Regions from separate parts of the Homo sapiens genome. Here region 2 is linked to region 1. Evidence: fine-mapped expression QTL. A gene starts in region 1. The other region holds a variant in brackets. All regions are shown on one strand. Distances are from middle to middle.

Region 1 (16,644 bases):
ACTCTTAAGTGATGTTTTATCTATATTATAGATTCCCACAAGATATTTCTTTTAAATTTCAGAAAACAAGAATTATATCCCTAAGAAGCTGGCTTCCAAATTAAACAACCTGCTTGTTTCTTGGCAAATAAGTATGCTTTAAGATGCATAATGTAGTTTTATGTTTTCTCAACATATTAAACAAATGCATTTTTATTTTCGTGTTTTCAGATAGTGGCCAGAACTATAGTGCCAGTAGTAAAGGTGAACGACTAAGTGCCAGACTCAGAGCTTTACCTGGGACAAATGAACCTTATGAAAGTAGCAGTAACAAAGAAATAGGCAAGTACTCTCCACCCAGTTCCTCCAGGCATAGCAGGTCTGAAGAAGAATGGTGAGATGGCCAAAAGGTGTTGCTGGGAATTCTTAAGAATTTGATATTTACAGATAAAATTTAAAATGACTTGGGAGACCATTTCTGTTCACTCTGAGTTATTCATTTTGACTATGAGCCTGATTGGTTTCACATTTGTTTTGTTTGTTTACATAACTCTAACGTGACAATCTCTTCGAAACCTAGATGCCTCCTATGTGGACCCACTTGGCCCTCAAATAGAACGACCAAAAACTGCAGCCAAGAAAAGGATCGATGAGGATGATTTTGCTGATGAAGAATTAGGAGATGATTTGCTTCCAGAATAATATTCACTTTAATATTTATTAAAGGAAAGAAATTGCCTTATGAGATCATCCTCATGTTAAACCTTGGATTAAATATCTAACCTGTAATTATTTTTTTTCACTGTCAAAACTTAAGTAAGTGTATTCTATTCTGTATGTATGCATTTAAGTTGTTTTTTTCTTTTAAGGAATAAAAACAGGTAAAACTAATACTTTAGGCCAGTGACTTCCTTAGCTTTTTGAAAACATTGACACACAGGAAGAAATAAATTTCATAACACAACCTAGTACATATATGTGTATGTAGTCATAAAAATTTACCCTTATTATTGCAATACATGCTAATATTTTCTATAGTTTCATTCAAACAAAGTGCTAGTAGTGAAGCCACTACATTGATTTCATGGCTTGCAGATTGAAAAATGCTGTGTGGACATAGGCACAATTTCTATTCATACTTAAATTGCTTGGAGTTTGGAAATTCTTTGGAAGATTTGCCTTGTGGGGATTAGAAACACTATTAAAACAATTATGTTTTGGAAGCAGTATAAAGGGTAATGGGATTAAATACCAAACCATAACCCTAGTGCTCCTTTCCGAAGTTCCTTTCTACTTCAGCCCGGGGGTGTGCACCAATAGCACAGAGCAGTAACAACTCTAAGATGGCTTTTCCCATTTGTGACTTAGTGGGTTGGGGGCAGGACTGCCTGCATTTTTCTTTAACAATGTGTTTGGCTGGTCTAGAGTCTCCAGAGGAATTATAATGACGAGGATGTCAGAAGCAGTGGCTTATCTCTAACACTATACCAAAGAGAATGGACCCCTCAATCTTACTTACCATTGTCTCTGCAACGTGCATGCTACTGTTAGATGCGAGGGAGGAAAACCAAAACTAGACCACATTCCTTGCTCCCAAAGTAGGTTATGCTCTAATTGATGAGACAGCCAACAAATACAGTAAACATCCAGTATGTGCAGAGAATTCATTAAAATTTGGGGGATACAGTAGTGAAAAAGAACTATACCTTGCCCTCAAGAAGCTTAAATTCTGGTGGGGAGATGGAAAATATATTTTGTTTGTTTGTTTGGGTTTTTTTTGAGATGGAATCTCACTCTGTCGCCCAGGCTGGAGTGCAGTGGTGCAATGTTGGCTCACTGTAACGTCCACCTCCTGGTTTCAAGCAATGCTCCTGCCTCAGCCTCCTGAGTTGCTGGGATTACAGGCACGCACCACCACACCTGGCTAATTTTTGTATTTTTAGTCAGACGGGGTTTCACCATGTTGGCCAGGCTGGTCTCGAATTCTTGACCTCATGATCCACCCACCTTGGCCTCCCAGAGCTGGGATTACAGGCATGAGCCAGCGTGCCTGGCCAGAAAATATGTTTTTAAAGGACTCTAGATATTGTTAATTACAGTTAAGAGAACAAAATGGAGTAATGCAATAGGTAGTGATTATAGAGGAGGGACTCTAAGAGGTGGCCTTGGTAATAACACTAGAATGGTGAGAAGAAAGCAGTGTTCTGAGCAGAAGGAGCAGCAAGTGCCGCACACTGAAAAATGAATGATCTGGATGTGTCACAGGGTTATTGAGCTACAGTGATAGTGAGAGGGTTTGGGATCCAGCAGTGTGGGTGGTGTGCTACATGGGCAGGAAAGGGAAAGGAGATGAGATCCAAAAGGTAGGCAGGGTTCAGAGCATGTACAGCCTTATAAAGACAGTTTGGATCTTATTCTAGTTACTATAGAACACCTGCTAGAAGGTTTCATGCAAGGGGGGTGAGTGAAGTGCTTTCATTTAACCTTTAGAAACCAGTCATCACACTGGTCGCCATGAAGATGAAGTGGGCAAGTGGGATGGAAGGGAAGAGTGGAAACTACTAGCAGTAGCCTGGGTAAGAGATGAAAGCAATTGAGACAGGTTTTTAGCAATAGAAAATTGTGAGAAGTGGTCAGATTCAGCATATATTTGGAGGCAGAGCTGAGACTTACTAATGGATTGGATGTGGATTGTGAGGGAAAGAGAGGAAAAGATGATGCCAAAATTTGTGGCTAAGGAACGGAGTGGCTAGTGTTGTCTTTTTAGTAAGATAGATTTGGGGGGGAATAAGTAGATGTGTTTTACCCATGTTAAATTTGTCTCAAGCATTCAATTTGAGATGCGAAGAATGCAGTTAATCTTTAAAATCTGGAGGTCACAGAAGTGAGGGCTACAGGTAGAGATGTGGGATCCATCTATGTACACTTCGTACTTAAAACCATGAAACTGAATGAGATCAATTAGGTCTGAGAGTGAGGCTAGAGAAGAAGTATAAGCAATGTGCTTGTGAGTACCAGAGAAAAAGGATGGCTCAGCAGAAGAGACTGAGAAGAGCAACAAGTGATGTAGGAGGTTTCAGGATTCAAACTTCCAGTTCTGAGAAGGATGCAGTAGGTCATGGAAGCCCTCCGTAGCAGCTGGGAAAAAAAAACAAATCATTGCAAAAATCATGTCTTCAAAGTCTCTGGAGATCTGTGGAATCAATAAAACTAAAAATTGCAGAGAGGAAAGAGCCTTTTTTTTTTTTTTTTTTTTTTGAGACAGAGTCTTGCTCTGTCGCCCAGGCTGGAGTGCAGTGGCACAATCTCGGCTCACTGCAACCTCTGTCGCCCAGGCTGGAGTGCAGTGGCGTGATCTCGGCTCACTGCAACCTCTGCCTCCCAATTCTCTGGGTTCAAGCAATTCTCTGCCTCAGCCTCCCAAGTAGCTGGGATTACAGGTACCTGCCACCATGCCTGGCTAATATTTATATTTTTAGTAGAGACGGGGTTTCACCATCTTGGCCAGAGGGTGGACTTGAACTCCTGACCTCGTGATCTACCCGCCTCGGCCTCCCAAAGTGCTGGGATTACAGGCGTGAGCCACTGCGCCCAGCCCAAAAGAGCCATTTCTAAATGAACTGCTGATCCTGCCTGTTTTTCTGGAGACATTCACCAGTTCTAGGCATGGGCTAAGAACTGCACTTTCCTCAGGGAAAAGGCGTCATCTAGAGAAACTAACAGAGCTTTTAAGGTGGTCATTTGGGGTTGGCATGACAAACTGGAAACTTAGAGAAGCCCCAAATGTATGGCTGGCTTTCCACCATGGGGCATTTGCTGGAGTGCTGCTTCAGCTGGGGTAATGCTGGAGGCTAGGGAACTGGGATGGAGGTTTTAAGGGCTTAAATCTCCCATAGTTCTTAGGGGACGATGTCCTGCTAGGGGGAAAGGCTTTCCACAAGATATTTGCTATTTAGTCTACCCTCAAGATAATTGCTATTTTGGGGGCCGGGCATACTGGCTCACACCTGTAATCCCAGCACTTTGGGATGAGGCGGATGGATCACTTGAGGTCAGGGGTTTGAGACCAGCCTGGTCAATATGGCAAAAACCTGTCTCTACTAAAAATACAAAATTTAGCTGGGCATAGTGCTCGTTTGTAATTCCAGCTACTTGGGAGGCTGAGGCAGGAGAATCTCTTTAACACAGGAGGCAGGGGTTGCAGTGAGTCAAGACTGCGCCACTGCACTCCAGCCTGAGCAACAGAGCAAGACTCCGTCTTGAAGAAAAAAAAAAAAGATATTTGCTATTTTTTGAATCTGCATGGGGGCAGGAGGCTAACAATCTAAAGTCAAAACCTGGAGGGACCAACTTGACTCTTTTTCCATCTTTCTCAGCTGAGGAGACAAATCTAGGCTCCTAATCAAAAGCCTAGAAGGACAAACATGAATCAACGGTGGACTGACCCTTATACAAAAACTGCAGCCCAGGCTGGGTGAGGTGGCTCATGCCTGTAATCCCAGTGCTTCTGGAGGTTGAGGCAAGAGGATTGCTTGAGGCCAGGAGTTCAAGGCCAGCCTGGGCAACATAGTGAGACCCTGTCTCTACAAAAAATAAAAAAATTAGCCGGGGCATGGTGGCATGCACCTATAGTCCCCACTATTCGAGAGGCTGAGGCAGGAGGATCACTCGAGACCAGGACTTCAAGGTTACAGTGAGCTGTGATTGCACTCCAGCCTGGGCAACAGAAGGAGACCCTGCAACTCAACTCAATCCTTGACTGGATTGAAGTAATTAGTCCTGAATTCTCTCTGCCTAAGAGAGGAAAGAGGACCTTTCTATGGTAAGAATATCATTTGCAGTCTCTACGGTTCTTATATATACAATGCTTGGCATGTAATAAAATTACTGTGGCTGGGCGCAGTGGCTCATGCGTGTAATCCCAGGACTTTGGGAGGTCAAGGCGGGCAGATCACGAGGTCAGGAGATCAAGACCATCCTGACCAACATGGTGAAACCCCGTCTCTACTAAAAAATACAAAAAATTAGCCAGGCGTGATGGCAGGCACCGGTAGTCCCAGCTACTCGGGAGGCTGAGGCAGGAGAATGGCGTGAACCCAGGAGGTGGAGCTTGCAGTGAGCAGAGATCGCGCCACTGCACTCCAGCCTGGGCGACAGAGCGAGACTCTGTCTCAAGAAAAAAAAAATTACTAGAATGCAAGGAGTCAAGAAAATATGACCAGCAATCAAGAGAAAGTATAAATAGAAGCAGTCCTCTAGAAAATCCAGATAATGGATTTAACAAACAAGGACTTTGTGACTAGTGTGTTAAGTTAATAAAATGGATAAAAAGATGGAAAATTTCAATTGAATGTTGGAATCTGTGAAAAAGAGTCAAATAACTTAAAACTGAAAGACACAATATCTGAAATGAACTTACTTGGATGGATTGAACAATGTACCAGACACAGCAGATGTCAGGATTAGTGAGTAGGTCAATAGAAAAATATCCAAACTAAAGCAAAGAGAAATAAGACTGGCAAAATAAAGCAGCTGACAAGAGACACTTGGGACACAGTCAAGAGTTTAAATAATTATAATGGGAATCCCGGAAGGAGTGGAAGAGAGAATAGGGTAGAATTAACATTAGAAGAGATAATGTCTACAATCTCCCCAAATTGAAAAAGACATAAAGCCACAGATTTAGGAAGTTCAGTGAGCACCAAGGAGATACAAAGAAGACCACGCTGTGGTTACATTGTGCTCAAACTGCTAAAACCCACGACTTCCTTAAGATAAGCAGAATTACAAGGACACAGTACTTTCAGAGGAACATTAATAAGATTTATGGCTAACTTTTCAATAAAACTAAGGAACCAGAAGACAATAAAATGGTATCCTTAAGGTGCTGAAAAACAAATTAAAAGTCTGCCAACCTAGATTTATATTCCAGTGAATATATCCTATAAACTTTAAAGTTAAAGAGTTTTCAGGCCGGGCGCAGTGGCCCATGCCTGTAATCTCAGCACTTTGGGAGGCCGAGGAGGGTGGATCGCCTGAAGTCAGGAGTTCAAGACCAGCCTTGCCAACATGGTGAAACCCCGTCTCTACTAAAAAATACAAACATTAGCCAGGTGTGGTGGCAGGCACCTGTAATCCCAACTACTGAGGCAGGAGAATCACTTGAAGCTGGGAGGCGGAGGTTGCAGTGAGCTGAGACCGCACCACTGCACTGCAGCCTGGGCGACAGAGCAAGACTCCGTCTCAAAAAAAAAAAAAATTTTTCAGACAAATAAAATTTGAGAAAATTAATTACCAGAAGACTAGGTCCACAGAAAAAGTCCTACAGGCTAAAGGAAGATGATCCTAGAAAGAAGCATGAAATGACAGAAACTGATCACAAAGTTGAAAAATAATGAAAAGCACCAGAAAGGTATGGGGATATATAAAAGAAAGAATATTCACTATTTAAAACAACAATAATAATGCCTTGTGGAATTTTAAGATACATAGAAATAAAATAATGACAATACTAGTCCAAAGATTGGGACTGGGTATTAAATGAAGTTTCTTATATCATTCAGACAGTGCTAGACCATAATGAGGAGTATTTTGCAGAATGTACAATTAAAAGAGTAATGGTACAACTAATGAATATGGAAAGAATGATAAAATCAGCCAGGTGCAGTGGCTCATGCCTGTAATCCCAGCACATTGAGAGGCCGAGGCAGAAGGATTGCTTGAAGGCAGGAGTTTGAGACCAGCCTGGGCAACAAAGCAAGACACTGTCTCTACAAAAAATTAAAAAATAAGCCAGGCACAGTGGCAAGTGCCTATGGTCCCAGCTATTTAGGAGGCTGAGGTGGGAGGATCACTTGAGCCCAAGAGTTTGAGGCTACAGTGAGCTATGATGGCACCACTGTACTCCAGTCTGAGTGGCAGAGCGTGACACTATCTCTAAAAATAAATAGATAAATAATAACTAATAGATAAATAAATAAAATGAAAATCACCACTTTGCAACCACCACAAAATTAATCCAAGCAAGAATCATCACCGATTGCTAAAGCAAGTGAAGGAAAGTTTGATGAGAATAGCGTATTTACATAGCCCCAAAGTTTTCCCCCATGAATTACTTATTAATTATAAGAGGAAGAAAAATTTTATACTGGAGAAACCTGGTGCTACCTTAATCATGACCAAAGTGAACACAGCCAATAATGGGATGAATAAAATCCTTATGCCCCTGATGTGAGACACTGAAAAGATATGAGATTACGTAGCCAATATTCCTGCCAAAAAAACTAACCTGAACCGAATCATGAAGAAATACCATAAACTGAAGAACATTTGACAAAATAACTAGCCTCTACTTTTCAAAAATGTCAAGGCCATGAAAGACAAAAAAATGTCTGAGGAACTGTTCCAGATTAAGGAAGACTAAAGCAGGCTGGGTTCAGTGACTCACACCTGTAATCTCAGGATTTTGGGAGGCCAAGGCGGCTGGATCGCTTGAGGATAGGAGTTCAAGACCAGCCTGGCCAACATAGCGGGAACCCCCATCTCTACTAAAAATACAAAAAATTAGCTGGGCCTGGTGGTGCATGCCTGTAGTGCCAGCTTCTTGGGAGGCTGAAGAACGAGAATCAGTTTAATCCAGGAGGTGGAGATTGCAATGAGCCAAGATTGCACCACTGCACTCCAGCCTGGGCAACAGAGTGAGACTCTGTCAAAAAAACAAAAAAGGAAGGAAGGAAGGAGGGAGGGAGGGAGGGAAGGACGGAAGGAGGGAAGGAAGGAAGGAAGGAAGGAGAGAAGAGAGAAAGAGAGAAAGAAGGAAGGAAGGAAGGGGGGAGGGGAGGGAAGAGGAGGGGACGGAAGGGGAGAGAAGGGGAGGGGAGGGGAGAGGAAGGAAGACTAAAGAGACATGTCAACAAAATGTAATGCATGATCCTTGATGAGATCCTGGACTGGGGGAATTTTGCTTTAAGGGACATTAAAGAGACAGCTGGTGAAATGGGAATAGGAATGTACAGATGCTCCTCAACTTATGATGGGGCTGTGTCCTGATAAACCCATTGTTAAAAAACACCACACGTTGAAAATACATTTATTACTCTGTTATACCAGTCATAAAGATGAAAAATCATAGCTTGAACTATCATTAAATCCAGATGCTCCTCGACTTACCATAGGGTTATGTCCCAATAAGCCTATCACAAAGTCGAACAATCATAATTGAACAATCATAAGCTGGAGACCATCTACATTAGATAAGTATTTGTAAAATGTCTTAATTTTTAGAATTGCACTACGGTTACATAAGTGAATGTCTTTGTTCCTGAGAAATACACACTGAGGTGCTGTGGGACAAAGGGTCCTGATTTCTGCAACTCGATGGCTCAGTGGTCCAGAAGAAAGCACAGTGAAAAAGCAATGTGGAGAAATGTGAACAAATAGTGGAACTGAGTGAAGGGTATGTGGAGTTCCTTCATATTCTTCTTACAACTTTTCTATAAGTCTGAAATTATTTCAAAATAAAAGTTTTTTTTAAAGCTAATGTAGCTGGGTGTGGTGGTGTACACCTGTAGTCCTAGCTACTCAAGAAGCTGAGGCAGGATGATGGCTTGAGTCCAGGGGCTCCAGGTTATAGTGGGCTATGATAGCACCACTGCACTCCAGCCTTGGTGACAGAGCAAGACCCCGTGCCTAAAAATAATAAATAAAAATAAAAAAGCTAATGGAGGACAAAATGTAATGATGAAAAATACTTGATTAATGCAAAGAAAGGCAGGTAAAGGAGAAATAAAGGAATAAAGAGCAGATGAACAAAGAGAAAACAAGCAACAAGACAGGACTTAAACCTATTTATATTAGTAATTACGTTACATTAGTAATTATAAAAATGCAAACTCAATTACATTAATAATTAGTAAATGCTAGTTATGTTTAAAAATACAGCAAATGTAAATAGAATATTCCAGTTAAGTGACAAAGATTATCAGACTATTAAAAAACAAGACTCAACTATATGTTACTTACAAGAGACACATTTTAAATGCAGTCCTGCACCACATGACATCATTTCAGTCAAAAACAGACCACATATATGATGGTGGCCCCATACGATTATAATACCAAATTTTTACTGTACCTTTTCTATATTTAGATACACAAATACTTACTATTGTGTTACAATTGCCTACATTATGCAGTACAGTAACATGCTGTACAAGTTTGTAGCCTAGATGTGTTGTAGCCTAAACTACACCCCACAGAGCCGAGTTGTATAGTAGGCTATACTCAGTTTAAATACAACCTAGGGTGTTCACACAGCAACGAAATCACCTTACATTTCTCAGAATGCATCCCTGTTGGTAAAAGACATGTGACTGTCTAAAGGCACAGATAGGTTGAAAAAGAAAGGATAGAAAAAGAATGCTCATCAAGGCCGGACGTGGTGACTCACTCCTGTAATCCCAGCACTTTGGGAGGCCAAGGCCGGTGGATCGCCTGAGGTCAGGAGTTTGAGACCAGCCCAGTCAACATGGTGAAACCCTCCCTGTCTCTACTAAAAATTCAAAAATTAGCCCAGCATGGTGGCACGTGTCTATATTCCCAGTTACTCGAGAGGCTGAGGCAGGAGAATAGCTTTAACCCGGGAGGCAGGGGTTGCAGTGAGCCGAGATCACACCACTGCACTCCAGCCTGGGCAATGAGTTAAACTTCACCTCAAAAATAAAACAAAATAAAAATTCAGAACCTTTGCTGTAAAGGGGAGTCAAGTGGGACCTGGGGTCAAGAAAGGGTTTATCAAATGCATCAGGAAAGAAGGTGGGAGACATCAGACTGGGTGGGAGTAAGTCAGTGCATTTGCTGGTTGGAAGAAATGTAAAAGCTCTCATCTGTGGTCTGTGGAAGGTGTGAGGAACGAATTGGGCAGTAGAGACTTGAGGAAAGAGAATATGTAGATTAGTGATACTGGAAGAAGACCATAACTGCAGAGGTGTAATACGATACTTATGTTGAATGTTAATCTGAGATTTGTGGTCATAACTCAGAACTGAGTCTACTCAGCTCAGTTGTATGATTTTTAAGAGTTGGGATTCTAGGCAATTACAACAGAGAAAAAAGGAGAAAGGGATTAAGGGTGTTTGCAAGGGCGTGGCGACAGTGTCGAACTGTGAATCTAAACTAGACAAGAAAGGACATAAGGACTCAAGGGTGGAACGGTTAGTGAGAAGTGGGAGAAGGCTGGATGACGGCAGAAAACTGCAGGAGTGGGCGAAAACAGAAGGCACCTATGTCAAGGAATAGGATATTTGAAATCAGATGTTTGGCTGTATTGCAGTTATTGGTGATGACGAAACCTTGGATATGACCCTATGACTTGACAGTTGAGATGAGATGGGAAATAAAGACAATTGGGGCTAACGTAGTCACTTGGAAATCAGCATGTTAAATTGTCTCTGTGGAGGTTAAGGTGCCAGGAATGATCAGCAGGAATAGTGGTAGACCCAGGTGCTAAAATCAGTGAATCAAGGGAGTGACCAGCAAGGTGACAGCAATGAGAGCGCTATCAGTAGGAACATCCAAGCACAGTTTTTTTTTTTTTTTTTTTTTGAGACGAAGTCTAGCTCTGTTGCCCAGGCTGGAGTGCAGTGGTGCAATCTCGGCTCAATGCAACCTCCACCTCCCGGGTCCAAGCGATTCTTCTGCCTCAGCCTCCTGAGTAGCTGGGATTACAGGCATGCGCTACCACACCCGGCTTTTTGTATTTTTTTTTAGTAGAGACCCGGTTTCACCATGTTGGGCGGGCTGATCTCGAACTCCTGACCTCGTTATCCGCCCGCCTAAGCCTCCCAAAGTGCTGGGATTACAGGCGTGAGCCACCATGCCCGGCCTCAAGGACAGCTCTTTAAGGAAGAGAAAGAGGTTTGGGTAGATACGAACATCAGTAACCCAAGATTATTAGTATGGAAGGAGCCAACCACACACCGGCTTTTGGAGTTACGGTGCCTAAGGATGATTTAAAAGATTTTCCCCAACAGCTTGCCCCATGCTAAGCAGTCTTGCAGCTGTGCTGGTATTGGGTGTGCTGAGTAAACCAGGGGATGAGGGACTGGAGAGGCTTCAAATGAAGCTTGCGTGGCCACATTACAGATATGTTGGTTTTAAGGGAACACGATGAGCCTGCTTTTGAGTATGTTGTTCCCTTTTTTTCACTTGTATGTCTTAGGTTTGAACTTACTAACATGCTTATTTTGCATCTTCACAAATATGTTGAAATTTGAGGGGAACTCATAAACATTTGCACCTATTTATGACTCTCAACTGATTAGTCTCACAAATATCAAATTTGTTCTGCCAAATAGGTGAGCATTTTCAGTCATTTGTGATCTTTCACAAAATGAAAACTGCTGGAAAGTAAATATTTTCCTTCCCACTTCCAAGGTAATCCGGGGGGGTGGTGAGGAAGAGAGAAGCTGCCATGTTACCAGACAGTGGAAAATACTTTGTTGAATAACATACAGAACTAAGTCTGGTACCATGTCACCTCATATAGGAATGGATGCTGAAATGAGACAGACTGAGTATTTCTATGAAACCCTCATAATGATACTCTCTTAAAAGCCTCCCACGCTTCCTTTTTTCCAATAAAAAATAAGCAGTATTTGAGTACTGAAACCTTTATTCCCATTTTACTGGAAACAAAGAACATGAACAATTTACTAGTCAGAAAAAAAGTGTTTTATAACCCAAAACAAATATTTGCCAAGAGCTGTAAATTGCTTAAATCGCTTAAACTGGAGATTTCAGTGAGATTTTTAGCAGTAGATTACTAAGCTCCTTAGTTATAGAACATTCAATGCATAGGAAAGTGTTTTTCCTACAAAGCATAACTGAAATGTAGTTTAACTAATGGTTTACAATTCAGTCAAATACCAAAGCTGCAAACCATTTAGGGAGTCATCAATTACATATTTTGTACACTTTCAAAAAGCTTACAGCTGGGATGGGTTGTTTATTTTCAAAGCATGACTGCTTTAAAATGATCATATTCTTTAGCCTGCCACCTAGGAAGCATTAAGCATTTACTTGCAGAATGAACAAACGAGCACGTTGTCTTGTGTTATGAAGTATATAATATAGTTCGTTTTAGTTTCTTCATTCGCAGACTATCAGGCTCATTTCACGTGACTGCTTGCACTTAGAACTGAGTTATCACGGAGTAGGAACTCTCCAACATCGTCGTCATAGACCAAGAGATGCCCATGAACAGCCATGAAAGTGCCAGTCAGGGAAGTATTCAGTGCTTTGTTGTAGAGTTGTTGGATAGAGGCACAGGATCATTTCATGTTGTTGAGGAGAAAGGAGCAACAGCCTCCTCCCACCTTATTAAAAATAGAGATTTAAAAAAACCTCTAATTTCCTCGAAGTACAGAATCTCAAGAGGTAGCTCTAAGGAGAATCCCTCTGGGTTTGAGCGCATTCCTCTTCCAGGGGGCCTATTCTTGGACTGCTTTCCTTAATAGAGAAATCTCTCTGAGCCAAAATCGGCCTCCCCCAATTCCATCCTGTCGGCCCCACTTTTCTGCTTCGGAGACTTCCAAGCCAGTCCCCACTCCTCCTTCAGCCAGTCGGGCCCGCACCCGCGCCCGGCAGGGCCAGCCCTCTCCTCCTCCTGCGTGGCGCAGCACAGGCCCTGAGCGCGCGACCCCAGGCCCTGGGCGCCCCGCCGCATGCTCGCGGCTGGAAGCCCCAGTTTGCGTGGCCCTTCGGGTTATTCCGCTCAAGAGCCGCCGCGTCGCCCCATCTCGGCGCGAATCTGAAAGCGCTTTCGGGGGAGAAGATGTTGGGGGCACTGGTGAGTACACTGCACAAGTGACAAAATGTTTTCAGCTCCTGGAGGCGAAAGGTGCAGAGTCGCTCTGTGTCCGTGAGGCCGGGCGGCGACCTCGCTCAGTCGGCTTCTCGGTCCGAGTCCCCGGGTACGAGGAAAGACCACAGGGGGCTTCTCGCGGAAAAGCGGGCCGCGGACCCTGCGCGGGCTGGCTGGGGCGGGCGGATGACGAGGCGCAGGGGCAAGGGTGGGTCTGCGAGGCGGCGGGTCCGGGCGTCTTAGGCTCCGGGGCTCCCTCGCTGGCGGCGGAGCAGGGATGGCGCGCCCGGGGGTGAGGGTGCGGCGGGTCACAAGCACTCGCAGCCCGCGGCGCAGCAACCCGGCAGGCACACGCACACGTGCACGCGCGCCCCGCACCCGCCCCCCGTGCGGCCCCCGGCTCGGGGCGGCGGCGGCGGCGGGGGCCGGGGGCGCGCGGGCCGGCGCCGGGCTGGGCCCCGGGGACCCCGCGGGCGGCGGGCAGGCGGGGAGGGCGCTCTGGGGCCCGCCCGCGCGGCTCCCATCCTCCGGGCCGGCCTCTGGCTCCGCGGGGCGAGGGGAGGCGCCCGCCGGCTCCGGGCGCCGCGGGCGGGACACGGGCGCGGGGCGCAGGCGGGCTCCTCCGGCGCGTGCGGACGCTGAGCGTGGCCTGTCCCTCAGGTCTGGATGCTGGTAGCCGGCTTCCTGCTGGCGCTGCCGCCGAGCTGGGCCGCGGGCGCCCCGAGGGCGGGCAGGCGCCCCGCGCGGCCGCGGGGCTGCGCGGACCGGCCGGAGGAGCTACTGGAGCAGCTGTACGGGCGCCTGGCGGCCGGCGTGCTCAGTGCCTTCCACCACACGCTGCAGCTGGGGCCGCGTGAGCAGGCGCGCAACGCGAGCTGCCCGGCAGGGGGCAGGCCCGCCGACCGCCGCTTCCGGCCGCCCACCAACCTGCGCAGCGTGTCGCCCTGGGCCTACAGGTGAGCCGCGGGCGCGTCCTGGCGGGGCCCGGCAGGTGGGGAGGGCAGGGCTGGGCGGGGAGAGTGGGTGGGGCCGGGCCGAGGCCGGGCAGGCGGGGAGGGTGGGGCGGGGAAGGGGAGGTGGTTGGGGCGGGGCGACGCGGAGGGGGCGTGGCACGCGGGGCGAGGCGGAGCAGGTAGGGGTGGGGTGGTGCGGGGCGAGACAGGGTAGGGTACGGTAGGGTGGGGTGGGGTGCGAGGGGCGCTGCGATGAGGCGGGGTGGGGCGGGGCAGTTGGAGCACTGGGGGGCAATTCCTAAACTGCGAAGGCCCACCCCCACCACCTCCCTTGAAGGAGTCCTGCTTCCTCTCTTTACCCTCCAGTATTTCCTATGCAACACGTATCTCTTGAACACCTCATCTCCTCCAGGTTGGATGGGTCCGCAAGGCACTAGCTGGGGACCCTTCCGTGATGTGGACACAGTGATGTGGACCGTACTCTGCACAGGGGGCCCGGGGAGGTGCTGCTGGGGGGTGCGCGGTACTATCCACATATTTCCTGAGTGCCCCTGTGGTCCAGAGGCTGCTGGAGTGGAGCCCTGGGAAGCGCCCTCTGAGCCCCTCTAGTTTAATAGCCTAAGGAAGGAGTGGGGATAATTGGGAAAGAAACCACACCATCAGGCAGTGCATGAAGTGACATGAACAGTTTCGAGAGTATTTTGGTCTTGGAACAGAGGTCATTTCAGAAGAAAGGGACAGCCTGCAGAAGGGGAAGGCTGGAGAAGTTGGGGGCGTGTAGGCAGGGTGCCGCAGTGTCCTCAGCAGGCACCTGTGACCGTCTTCCCTCTAGCTGGAGCAGGAGGAGCTGCCCTAGGGGGCAAGGCCTCCCAGGGCCACAGAGGTCAAGAAAGGCTTCGTGAAAGAGCTGAGTCTTGATGGAGGAGAGCAAGTCGCCTACAAAGGCAGTGCTGAGGGAAGGGACAGCTGATAGCAAGCGGGAACAAAGCGCTTGGAAAATGGGGAGAGCCACAAGGCGAGCGGGGGCGGTGGGGGTGGGGGGGCGTAGGCGAGGTGTTTGCCTGTGGGGTGGGCATCGATGTAAGGCTGGAGACAGGTGCAGGAGCTGGATCCCCGCCTTGTCAGCAGTGCAGAGCTTCACCCTCACGCCTGGAATCCCAGCACTTTGGGAGGCCGAGGCAGGAGGATTTAAGTCCAGGAGTTCGAGACCAGCCTGGGAAACATAGCGAGATCCCATTTCTGCAAACAATTTTTAAGGATTAGCGAAGTGTGGTGGCACGTGCCTGTGGTCCCAGCTACTCCAGAGGCTTAAGTGGGAGGATAGATTGAGCCCGGGAGGTTCAGGCTGCAGTGAGCTGTGGTGGCGCCACTGCCTTCCAACCTGCGTGACAAAGCGAGACCCCGTCTCTAAAATAAAAATTAAAGAGAAAAAAAGTCTTGACACTTGAGATGGAGGAAGCCATACAGCCACTCTGGTTTAGGAGGGTGTCCCAATGGGGCATGGATTGGACAATGCTCTCCAGCACTTCCATCCAAAGGATCTAGGGCTTCACTCAGGCAGCGCGGTGGGAAGGGGAGACTAGGATCAGCGTGAAAGATGCTCATTAAAGAAGACAAGTGCTGTGGAGAGTCAGAGGAAATGTGATGATTTTGTCTAAAACGCATCTGGGCTTTCCTGGAGCCTCTCCCTGCCGGCTGCTGGGTAGGGAGATTTCCTTTTACTCAACAACACACAGGACCCCTATGCTGTCCTGGGAAGCCAAGTTTTAGGGCCTCCTGCCTCCTGGCTACTCTGCAGAGGACCAAGCTCACTGTGGCAGAGCCCCCTCAGAGCCCCTGCCCACGGGGAAGTTGGGTGGGACCCCTCCCGCCCTTCTCACTCCTGTCCTTCAGCTGGAGCCTGCAGGGCACACACATGGCGCCATTCATTCTGGTATCTTGGTGCTCTTGCTTTTCCTCTCTCTTCCTCCATTTCCAGGACCTGAAGGGATGGACTACGGCATTCTTCTTTCTCTAACCTCGTGTTATGCTTCTGATATACCAAATAGGATTAAAGCCACATAAGGAATCTCTCAGAACCAGAGATTAACTTCTCTGGACAGAAGCTGCTGGCCCTGCTTTCTATAGCAGATTCGAACTCTCAGGCAAACCCGTGGCTCCCCACAGGCTGGGCCAAGGGCCTAAGAGTAGTATATAGCCTCCCAAAGGCATGTCTCTCATGTTTCTGGCTTGGGTTGTTGATGGTATTTGAGCAAAATGAGAAAATACACTTAGGAACAAGTGTTGTGGGAGGAAATAATGAATTTAGTAACAAGCCTGTTGAGTTTTGCCTGCCTGAAAGGCGTACAGGTGACAATGACTGGTTGGAGCTCAGGAGACAGAGCAGGGCTGGAGGACACATGGAGAGTTAGCAGCACTGGCATTCTGTGTGTGGGAAGTTAAATTGAGTTGCCCTTGCTACAGATGACACCTATGTCGCCCCAGGCAGGATCTGGGAGCCGAGGGAGGTTATGGATGAGAATGACACACAGGGTTCGGGGATCGTGGTCTGGGCCACCCAGATCTGCCCACATGTGGAACCTCAGTGCTGGGTGGTCCCAGGAGCAGGAGTGGCAGCTGCAGCAGGGTGGCTGAAGGTGTCATGTGCATCATTTTTCATATTATTTAGCAACAGTGATGAGATCACTCCCCATGGGCAAACGGAGGTGGGTGGCTTATATTTGCTGAAGGAAGGACAGTCTTCAGGGGATGGCTGCTGGGCTGGGACTCCAGATTGCTGACTGCCAAAGCTGCTCCTGCATTTTCCTGCCAGGAGAGCCCTCTCTGCCCTCCTCCCTCCAATCACCTCTC
Region 2 (11,320 bases), 140 kb after region 1:
ATGAAATTTAAAAAACAATTTACAATTGAATAATAAAAAAATACTCACAAGCCTGGACAACACAGCGAAACTCAACCCCTACAAAAATCAGCCAGGCATCATGATGCGTGCCTATAGTCCCAGTTACTCAAGAGGCTGAAGTTGAGAGGATAGCTTGAGCCCAAGAAGTCGAGGCTGCCAAGAGCCATGATTACACCCCTGCACTCCAGCCTGGGCAACAGGGCGAGACCCAGTCTCAAAAAAAAAATGTACTTAGAATAAATTTAATAATCTTTTGCTCTGGAAACTATAAAACAGTGTTGAAAGAAATAAAAAAAAAAAACCTTTAATAAATAAATCCAGGCCAAGCCCAGTGGCTCATGCCTGTAATCCCAGCACTTTTGGATGCCAAAGCGGGAGGATCACTTGAGCCCAGGAGAGTTTGAGGACAGCCTGGGCAACATAGTGGGATCCTGCCCTACAAAAAAATTTAAAAATTAGCCAGGTGTGGTGATGTGTACCTGTGGTTCTAGCTACTTGGGAGGCTGAGGCAGGAGGACCACTTGAACTCAGAGGTCAAGGCTGCAGTGAGCCATGATCATGCCACTATACCTTAGCCTGGGTGACAGAGCAAGACCCTATCTCTATAAATAATAATTTTTAAAAATCAGAAAACTTAACTTAGTTTTTTGTTTGTTTCTGTTTTAAGAGACAAGGTCTTCCTCTGTTGCCCAGGCTGGGGTGCAGTGGTGCAATCATAGTTCAAGGTAACTTTGAACTCCTAAGCTCAAGCCATACTCCTGCCTTGGCCTCCCAAAGTGCTGAGATTCAGGTGTTAGCCACCATGTGCTGCCTCTACTTTCTTTTTAAAGGGTACAATGCCAGGTACAAATAGACAATAGTTGGAGGAAATACTGATTATTCAAAAAAAGAGAGGACAGAAGAAAATACTTCACAAGGGCTTTACATATATGTGCTTTAAAATTCCATCACTCTCCTTGCAATTCTATCAGTTTAAAAAAATAATGATAAAATAAAATTCCCTCATGCTGACTTCTACCACTGTGTTCCTCCATTTTGAAAGAAACCTAGACAAAGCTGGTCAAATCAGCACTTAATAGCTAAGAAGTATGGATCATCAAGGCAGGCAGTTCACACTACCACAGGGCTGCCTACCTCAACCACGCCCTGGGCTATCTCAACATCTATGTCATTGGCCTAACACCACAATATCACATTTTCTTTCTGAAATCCTGACTTCTCCCCTCAAGCAATAAACAGGTTCATCTAAGCTTAAAGCATAAAACAACATTTCCTTGGCACAAACCCCCATTCCCTTGAGCTGTCAGTTGATGCTCTTCGAAATATCTATATAGTTCAGTTGACCCTTGAATAACACAGGTTTGAACTGCACAGGTCCACTTGTACTTTCACTAGAAGTTACACCAAGTGTGCCTTCCTTTCCTTACCTCCCCTTCACCTCCTCCACTTCTGTCTCTACTATCACTGAGACAGCAAGACCAACCCCTCCTCTTCCTCCTCCTCCTGAGCCTACTCAACTAGAAGACGAAGATGAAGACATTTATGATTGATCCACTTATACTTAATGAACACTAAATATCATTTATCTTCCTTATAATTGTCTTAACAACATTTTCTTTTCTCTAACTTACTTTAAGAATATATTATAGTACATATAAAACATAAAATAAGTACCAACTGACCGTTTATGTTATCAGTAAGTCTTCCAGGCAACAGTAAGCTATTAGTAAAACGTTCTGGGGAGTAAAAAGTTATACTGGAATTTTTGACCGCATGGGGGTTGGTGTCTCTAACCCTCACATTGTTCAAGGGTCAATTGTACTTCACTCTATACTTCATCAATTACTAATTACTACCTGATCACTGAGATACGGCTTTTGCCCCTGTCATTCACATAAACAGACTTCCATATGACCAACTATGTTCTAACTGATATTCGGTGTAGATCAAAAACAATCTACATCTTACCTATCGGTAACAGACGATGTTGACTACCTGATTCCTTGAAACATCATCTATCTTTGCTTTCCAAACACTCCTTGCCTTGTTCTCCCATCCACTTGTCTTAATTGGCTTTCTTATTTTCTTTTGCTTCTTCCTGCTTTTTCACTACTGATGCACCTAAAGGTCCTGACATGGATCCTCTGCTCCTTCTTGGACCACCTCTCCTATTTCCTTAACTTCAATGGCCCCACTCTCCCACAACTTTATCTCCACCCCTAATCTCCCTCTATAATTCTACTAATGGTGCAGTTGACCTGTGTGAAGTGGGTTTCTACACCGTGACATGATGGGTATTTTTAAAGGCTTCATTAAGACATAATTCACACACTACGCAATTTACCCACTGAGTGTACAGCTCAATGGTTTTAGCATATTCACAGATGTGTGCAACCACGACCATGATCTAATCTGAGAACATTTCCATGGTACCAGAAAGACCCCATATGCTTTAGCAGTCACCTCCTACTTTGTTCCAATCACTCCAGTTCTAGGTAACCACTAACCTTTCTGTCTCTATAGATTTGCCCATCCTGGACATTTCATAAATATGTTATCATATAATTTGTGGTCTTTTGTGAATGGCTTTTTTCACTCAGTATGTTTTCAAAGTTTACACATGTTGTAGCATGTATCAGTAATTCATGTCTTTTTATGACAGGTAATATTCCCATTATATGGGTATACCACATTTTATTTATCCATTCATCAGCTGATGGACATTTGGGTTGTTTCTACTCATATAGTATTATGAATAGCCTATTCATATAGTACTGCTCTGAACATTCATGTACAAGTTTTTGTGTGGATGACTATTGATACTTTGGGCCCAATAATTGCTTGTGTGGGGCTGTCCCGTGCTTTGTAGGATGTTTAGGATGTTTAGCAGCATCCGTAGCCTCAACCCAATAGATGGCAGTAGCATTTCCCGAGTTGTGACAATCCAAATTGTCTCAAGACACCACCAAATGTCCCAAGTATACAAAATTGTTCCTAGTTGAGAATCAATGTTAAAGAGTTATGATTTGTTTTCTTTCTTCTCCTTTTTTTTTCTTTTTTAGAGACAGAGTCTCACTCTATCCCTCAGGCTAGAGGTAGAGTGCAATGGCGTAATCTCAGCTCACTGCCACCTCTGACCGCCGGGTTCAAGCACTTCTCCTGCCTCAGCCTCCCAAATAATTGGGTCTACAGGTGTGTGCCACCATGCCTGGCTAATTTTTTGTAAGAGATGGGGTGTATTGGTCCATTCTCAGGCTGTTGATAAACACATACCCGAGATTGAGCAATTTACAAAAGAAAGAGATTTAATTGGACTTACAGTTCCACGTGGCTGGGGACACACGGAACAATCATGGCAGAAGGCAAGGAAGAGCAAGTCCCGTCTTACATGGATGGCAGCAGGCAAAGAGAGAATGAGGAAGATGCAAAAGTGGAAACCCCTGATAAAACCATCAGATCTTGTGAGACTTATTCACTACCACGAGAACAGTATGGAGGAAACTGCCCCCATGACTTTATCTCCCACGGGGTCCCTCCCACAACACATGGGAATTATGGGAGTACAATTCAAGATGAGATTTGGGTGGGGACACAGAGTCAAACCACATCATGAGGTTTTGCCATGTTGCCCAGGCTAGTCTCAAACTCCTGAGCTCAAGCCATCCACCGGCCTTGGCCTCCCAAAGTACTGGGATTAAAAGCGTGAGCCACTGCGCCCAGCCAAGTTATGATTTCATTAATGAAACTTTGCATGAGCGTAAATCTTGACCTAAGAACACTGTAATACAAGCTATTAACTATGATAGCATTAATGCCCTTAAATATTAATATCTAAATATTTACTCTGCATTATTTTGTCAGTATCTCTCTATGCACATCCTACAGCCACTGCTCAGTCAGCTTCAGCTGGTTTTCCCAATATTTTACAGTCACAATTAATACAGTACTTTCTATAAGAAATTACATTTTGGGGCTGGGCGCAGTGGCTCACGCCTGTAATCCCAGCACTTTGGGAGGCTGAGATGGGTGGATCACGAGGTCAGGAGATCAAGACCATCCTGGCTAACAGGGTGAAACCCTGTTTCTACTAAAAATACAAAAAAATTAGCCAGGCGTGGTGGCGGGCACCTGTGGTCCCAGCTACTCAGGAGGCTGAGGCAGGAGAATGGCGTGAACCTGGGAGGTGGAGATTGTAGTGAGCCGAGATCATGCCACTGCACTCCAGCGTGGGCAACACAGCAAGACTCCATCTCAAAAAAAAAAAAAAAAAAAAGAAAGAAATTACATTTTGGTCTTGTTCTGTTGCCCAGGCTGGAGTGCAGTGGTGTGATGATAGATCACTGCAACTTCAAACTCCTGGCCTCAAGCAATCTTCCCACCTCGGCCTCCCAAAGAGAAATGAAACCCTAAGCCCACACAAAAATTATAAATGAATGCTCACAGCAGCATTGTTAATAATAATCAAAAAGTGGAAACAACCCAACTGTCCATCAACTGATAAATGGATTAAAAAAGTGGTATATCCATACAATATTATGGCAATGAAAAGGAATGAAGAACTGATGGATGCTGCATGCTACAAAATGGATGAATCTTGAAAACATTATGCTAAGTGAAAGAAGCAAGGATGGGTGCAGTGGATGACACCTGTAATCCCAGCACTTTGGGAGGTCGAGGCAGGCAGATCACTTGAGGACAGGAATTCGAGACCAGCCTGGGCAACATGGCGAAACTCCATCTCTACTAAAAAATACAAAACTAGCAGGGCGTAGTGGTGTGTGCCTATAGTCCCAGCTACTCAGGAGGCTGAGGCAGGAGAATCGCCTGCACCCAGAAGGCAGAGGTTGCAGTGAGCCGAGATCGCGCCACGGCACTCCACCTTGGGAAACAGAGTGAAACTCCGTCTCAAAAAGAAGCCAGTCACAAAGGACCACATATTATATGATTCCATTTATACGCTATGTCTAGAATAGGTAAATGCATAGACAGAAAGTGGTTGCTACGGACTGGGGAAGGTGGAAATGGAGACTAACTGCTAATTGACACAGGGCTTGTGTTTGGGATGATGAAAATGTTCTAAAACTACTGACAATTATTGCTGTACAACTCTATGAATATATTAAAAAACACTGAATTATACATTCTAAATGGGTATATAGTATAGTGTGTGAATTACATCTCAATAAAACTATTATTGAGACTGGGCATGGTGGCTCATGCCTGTAATGCCAGCACTTTGGGAGGCTGAAGGAGGAGAATCACTTGAAGCCAGGAGTTCGAGGCCAGCCTAGCCAACACAGCAAGACTCCATCTCCACAAAAATTAAAATAAAAAAATTAGTCAGGGCCAGGTATGGTGGCTCATGCCTGTAATCCCAACACTTTGGCAGGCCAAGGTGGGTGGATCAACCTGAGGTCAGGAGTTCAAGACCAGCCTGGACAACATGATAAAACCTGTCTCTACTAAAAATATAAAAATAAGCTGGGTGTGGTGGTGCACACCTATAATCCCAGCTACTTGGATGGCTGAGGCATGAGAATCGCTTGAACCCAGGAGGCAGAGGTTGCAGTGAACCAAGATAGTGTCACTGCACTCCAGCCTAGGCAACAGAGCAAGATTCTTTCTCAAAAATAAATAAATAAATAAAAATAAAATTATCTCAATATAAAATATAGATACAAAAAAGAAAGCAGATTAGAAAAAATTAATAAATGGGGGATTGTTACTGATAATTTAACACAGCCTCATTTAACATACCATTCTAAATTATCAAAATATTTAACACTAAATACACAAATTTTCCATGATTTATTATTTGTCTATCCTAAGAGACAAATCACCTTTTATTTTATTTTATTTTATTTTTATTTTGAGACAGGGTCTCTTCTGTCGCCCAGGGTGAGTGCAGTGGCATGATCATGGCTCACTGTAGCTTCAACCTTCCAGGCTCAAGCAATCCTCCTACCTCAGCCTCCCGAACAGCTGGGACTACAGGCACACACCACACACCTAGCTAATATTTGTATTTTTTTGTAGAGATAGGGTTGTGCTATGCTGCCCATGCTGGTCTCGAACTCCTAGACTCAAGCAATCCTCCCATGTCAACCTCCCAAAGTTCTGGGATTACAAGAGTGAGCCACCGCACCCAGCAGATAAACCATCTTTTAAAAGGCATCAATTCAACACTTTTAAACTAAGTTAAATTTGATTATTTAGACCCTCTCCATGGTACAAGGCTGCATAATTATTCCATTCTTTTCCTTACTGATTGAATGGTAGATCTCCAGGTAATTTCCAAAATTAGAAATTAGTCAGAATTGAGTTCCTTGAAATTGATTTCCCTAATGAGTGCTAAATCTGTAGCTTAGTTTAATCTCACTGCCAAGTTCTTTCTCCCACACTTAAAGCTAATCCACTCAAAGAATACTTAGCTGTAGTGCAGTCAGCCAACAAATGGCACTATATGAAAAGGTCACACAAGAACTCACTCATAAGCCATGAAGCAAAATATCCTCAAGTCAAAAACCAAGATATACTTTCTTTAAACAAGGAATTATTTCCTTTGGCAACACTGCAGTATTGCTT[AT/A]CATTTTCAGATGACAGATTTTCCAAAGCTTTATCTAAGTACTTTATAAAATATTTTATGTGTGTGTATCTTTTAGACAAGCTTTGTTTCCAAACTCCCAGAGAACTATTTCTTTTTATAAAATAGTCACTCTCTACCAACTGTATTTTCCCTTAAAACAGACACTTTAAAATATATGCAGTGTAACTTTTGTTGATTTTTCCCTACATATATAATTAATATTTTGATAGCTCCATATGGACTGCTAATTTTAAAATATGTCTCAAGGTTTTTCAATATCTTTTCTTTCCCCACTGAAAACACTGGAGCAAGAAGCTGAATCCAATCTCTCTCCCCAACTGCAAGATCCTGTTGTGGTGGTCCCCACATCTATCACCATTGGCTCCCCTGAATAAAGCCTGCCTTACCAACTTTATTTAAAAAAACAAACAAACAAAAAACCTAGAACAAAAATATTGAAACACTGAAAGGGGAAATTTTTTAAAAAGCAAACCTAAGCAAGTAGCCACCTCTTGACAACCAAAAAGAATTAAGTTAATATATTAAAGATAAAAAGTTGGTTATTGGGAGAAAGATGATTACAGAATAAGAATAAAAGGAAACAGTGACTGACCTTACTGTAAGCTTTGCCCCATAATGCAGCAGCTCAGTGACTGCTTTTGGGAAAGAAACCTGGAGAGCTCACGAGTCAGACTCACTTTACCTGACAGAGCCCTTCACAGTTAATATTCTACTACGTGAATAGACTAAGTTTAAATGGAAGAAGGAGTTATACCCCACCACACTCCTTTAAATGTCATAATTTTACCAGCCACAAATAATTAGCGAGTTTCTGTATATGTAAATGTAGCTCCTCTTGGCTCTTGTTACAATAAAAATGAGTCCCATACTAGATCTCTGATCTGATTTCACATCTATTTCCTGTCTGCTTATCATCAGTCTTTTTCTCCTGAACAGACTCTCAGATTAAAAACATCTAGAACAGGTCGCATTAAATTTCCTATACCACACAGAGGCGTATTAGTTCAACAAAGAAGAGTATAAAAGACAGTTAGTTATATAATGAACTATTTAATTCACGGAGGCTATTAAGAGCTCAATAAATAGTAACTAACTCCTGAGTGTTTTAAATGTATTGTTTCATTTAATTCACACAACAATCCATACCCCCATTTTACATTTGGAAAAGCTGAGACTCAGAGAGGTTCAGGTGATTTGCCTAAGATGAGCAGAGCCTTGAATCCAGATCTATTGGACTTTACACAACAAATGGGTAGTCACTGTATATTACTATCAACGGGCAGCAGATGTCCCAGCATAGTAAATGAGACAGCAGTTCCTTAAAGTTTATGAAATACAAATTTCTCTACTTTAAGTAACTAATTTAAAAAGCAGATATATGCATTGATAATACAACCCACTTAAACTTTTGAATAATTTCCTAAAAACAAAATTCTCATTTTTTTATACTGGTAAAGGCCCTTGAAGAGTAAACATATTACTAACTTATTACCTATACTTGAACAACATCACCATCCATAAAGATTAAATTAGAGCACTCCAAACTAGCTTTAAGTCAGTCAAAAAAATCAAACATAATTACTTGTCCAAGGAAAAAATGATTCGGTTTCTTAAAAGGTAATTTCTACCTGTTTCCTTTTCCTTCCCAAAGAATAATGCTAATCCTGAATTAGCAACAGCTCCGTCATCCACCACGTTTCTATGTATTCAAACTTCTTCTACAAAGGAGTAAATACTTTTAAATCTTCTAGTATTATCCTAGTATCCACTGTCTTTTGGCATTATAAAGAAATTAAATTCTATTTCTTAAAAAAAATCTTATTTTCTTTCAATATGTTTTATGAAAGCTGCAGAGGTGAAAGACTCCGAGCTGTAATTAAGTCACCTATGAAAATTACCACAGATAAACTATTCATTTGTTAAAAGGATATAATTTGGAGGAAGAAAGTTCCAGCTCAAGACTTGATTGGCGAGTGCAAGGTAACGCTGAAATACTGAAGACATCTGAGCATTGAGGTTTTCCCGCCTGCTGAACTCCTGCAGAACTTCAACAGTTAACATGAAGATCTGACGAAGGTCTTCTTCCTATAGTCAATAAATCACAAATATTTTATATGAAAAATTTATTCAAAATGTATCCCCTTTTAGAATCATGAAACAAAACAAACACCTTAAAATTTCCAATGGAAAACACCATTTCCTTAAGAACGTGTTCCATTTTTAGGCCTCTACTTGTAATTTACATCGCAGTATGCTTTCAAGTGACGCCAGATGGAATACTTTTACTTGAATATAAATGCTACTTCCATAGAGAAGAGAGTCTTTGACAACTACTGCGGAGCCAGAGGAGTCAGTTGCTATAGTGCAGAGCCCTAGGATTTAAGCCAATGCCTTCACATAACTTTACTCCAGAGCCAAACAATACATACAAGACAAAGAGCCCGCACCATCTGCAATAACATTTGAAATACACGGCCTTCTGGCATTCTTCCAGACCTATTTTTAAGGCCAGCAGAGTCCCTTCAATTGAATTAGTTATATCTAAACACAATAAGAAATAAATAATAAACTAAAGATCTTTATAGAAGTATTGTTTTTAAGACTAGAATTAAACAAGTAATTTTAAACCATCAACTACATTCACCAAACCTATCATTTTACTATATCCTTTGAAATCACAAAACAAATCCTGAAGTACAGGCTACCATTCAACTACATAAAATAAATATTCTCATGTCATTAGGAATAGATTGAGTAAAAAGTGAATGATCCAATAATTAAAACTCAAGAACAAAACTACCAATACCTGAAAAACTCTTTTGCAGTTACCATGGAATTCCATGCTCAATCCAATGTTGCTAGTTTTACTTGAACTTGAAAATTCACTCAATAGCGCAGTCAGAATAGAACAGGCCAGAGTTTGCTGTAATTATTTGATAAGAAATAATTGTGAGGCATTACTGTTTCAACGCTTTGTTTCAATGCATTTGTTCAAACATAATAGAACATTTTCTCCCTAACTTTAGATCTTCCACTGTATCTTTAGATCTTATAACAACTAGTCAGAAAATCAGATATGACAAAATAAATATTAGCTCTCCTTTCTAAGTGGTCTGGTCAGTGTTAATAGTACTTCCTCAAATGCAGTTATACAAATCCATCTAAGACTTGAACTCAGGACACACTGTTCCTACTCAATAGTGGAATTCAAATGATATTTAAAAATAATAAATGTTGAAGGTATTATTTTGTTTAATTCGCAGAACAACCTATATCCTCATTTTACATTTGAGAGAAGTGACCTGGAGTACTTATCTAAGGCCAGCTGAGATTTCAACCCATGTTTGACCCCGTTCTGTTTGTAAAATGCATTCCCAAATAGATGAAAAGTGAAACAGATTTTATAGTGTCCAAAATATTATAGCCAGGTAATACCCAAAAGTTTTTTAAATAGAAAAATGAAGATTTTTCTTCTCATTGGTTCTATCCAACAGGCTCCTAATATCAACTCATTGATTTTATTCCCAGACTAAAACAGTCAAGGTACAAAGGATGGAAAGAGGATACAAATTATTTTGGCAACTTTCCAGGAGTTAAACAGAAATATGCACACTACCTCTGAACAACCGAAAGATTAAAGTCAAGATGATACTATTTATGCAAGCTTATCCAACAGCTGAACACTGTCATACCCACCCACCAACTGCAACATCTCTGTTCAGAAATGCTTCTGATGTCAGTACCTTGACCTTACAGATACTTATCTTGGCAAATCTTAGCAAATAACTTAATGATATTAAATTCCTAAAAACTGGCAGGAAATATCTGTTGAAGGTGAGAGGTGACTGATGGTTCCATGAGTGACTAATAGACTATCTGTCCATTTTGTATATGTCTGAAATTTTTCTTTAAAAAATGTAAACATAGGCCGGACACAGTGGCTCATGCCTGTAATCCCAACACTTTGGGAGGCCGAGGCAGGCAATCACCTGAGGTCAGGAGTTCGAGACCAGCCTGGCCAACATGGTGAAACCCTGTCTCTACTAAAAATACAAAAAAATCAGCTAGGCATGATGGCAGGCACCTGTAGTCTCAGCTACTTGGGACACCAAGGCAGGAGAACGCTTGAACCTGGGAGCCGAAGGCTGCAATGAGCCGAGATCGCGCCACTACACTCCAGCCTGGGCAACAGAGTAAGACTAAGTCTCAAAGAAAAAAGAGTAAACATAAAGTTAAATTCCTATTTGCCTCTTAATCTCAACTAAAACAAGCGTGACTATATAGCTAATATTTATGAAAGGCACAAAACCCCATATGTTAAAGAAGTTTCTCAGACTTTTCCACACCTGGAAGTAAATGCAAATTCTCTAGCGAATCTAGGGGTATGATCAAAGATGCCTTCTGCAACAATAAAAGTTCTCTGAATGTTACTGGTTTGGCATAAACACACACATTTTGTAATTTTACTTCAAAATATACATGACTTAATATAAAAATGTCCCTTCCTCCCAAAATCTTCAAGAAACCCATTTAACTGCCTTTGTATGGCCCCAGGCACTTGGAGACAAAGAAGCCAGGCACTAAGGCCTCTCACAGAAAAAAACAGTTGATCACATATTTCTGTCATTTTACTGTTTAAAGCGATCTCAAAATTCAGGAAGTACAATCCCTTCATTTTTTTAGTTAACAAAA

Which allele goes with the higher level. Positions count from the first base shown, and alleles are read on the strand shown. Sizes are in standard deviations (SD) of each study's normalised expression.
For the expression in esophagus muscle of the gene that starts at base 13,205 in region 1, allele AT in region 2 goes with a lower level than allele A (moderate effect, 0.71 SD a copy in GTEx).

Evidence for each region. PIP is the estimated chance that this variant, and not a neighbour inherited with it, causes the effect.
Region 2: its variant is fine-mapped to the expression of IL17D in esophagus muscle (GTEx, PIP 0.99).

What each region holds. Positions count from the first base shown.
Region 1 is chr13:20,690,495-20,707,138 of GRCh38, forward strand. It overlaps IL17D (interleukin 17D), which reads left to right and starts at 13,205. Exons shown (of 2, transcript NM_001385224.1): 1 at 13,205-13,797. The coding sequence starts at 13,508. It overlaps IFT88 (intraflagellar transport 88), which reads left to right. Exons shown (of 26, transcript NM_006531.5): 25 at 211-321; 26 at 560-950. The coding sequence ends at 681. RefSeq lists silencers at 12,587-12,666, 13,087-13,226, 13,517-14,026.
Region 2 is chr13:20,834,336-20,845,655 of GRCh38, forward strand. XPO4 (exportin 4) reads right to left here. Exons shown (of 23, transcript NM_022459.5): 5 at 9,435-9,551; 6 at 8,560-8,713. Among named protein-coding and RNA genes, the nearest start is that of XPO4, 63 kb to the right of the region's middle. The variant AT/A (reference allele first, on the strand shown) is at 6,607.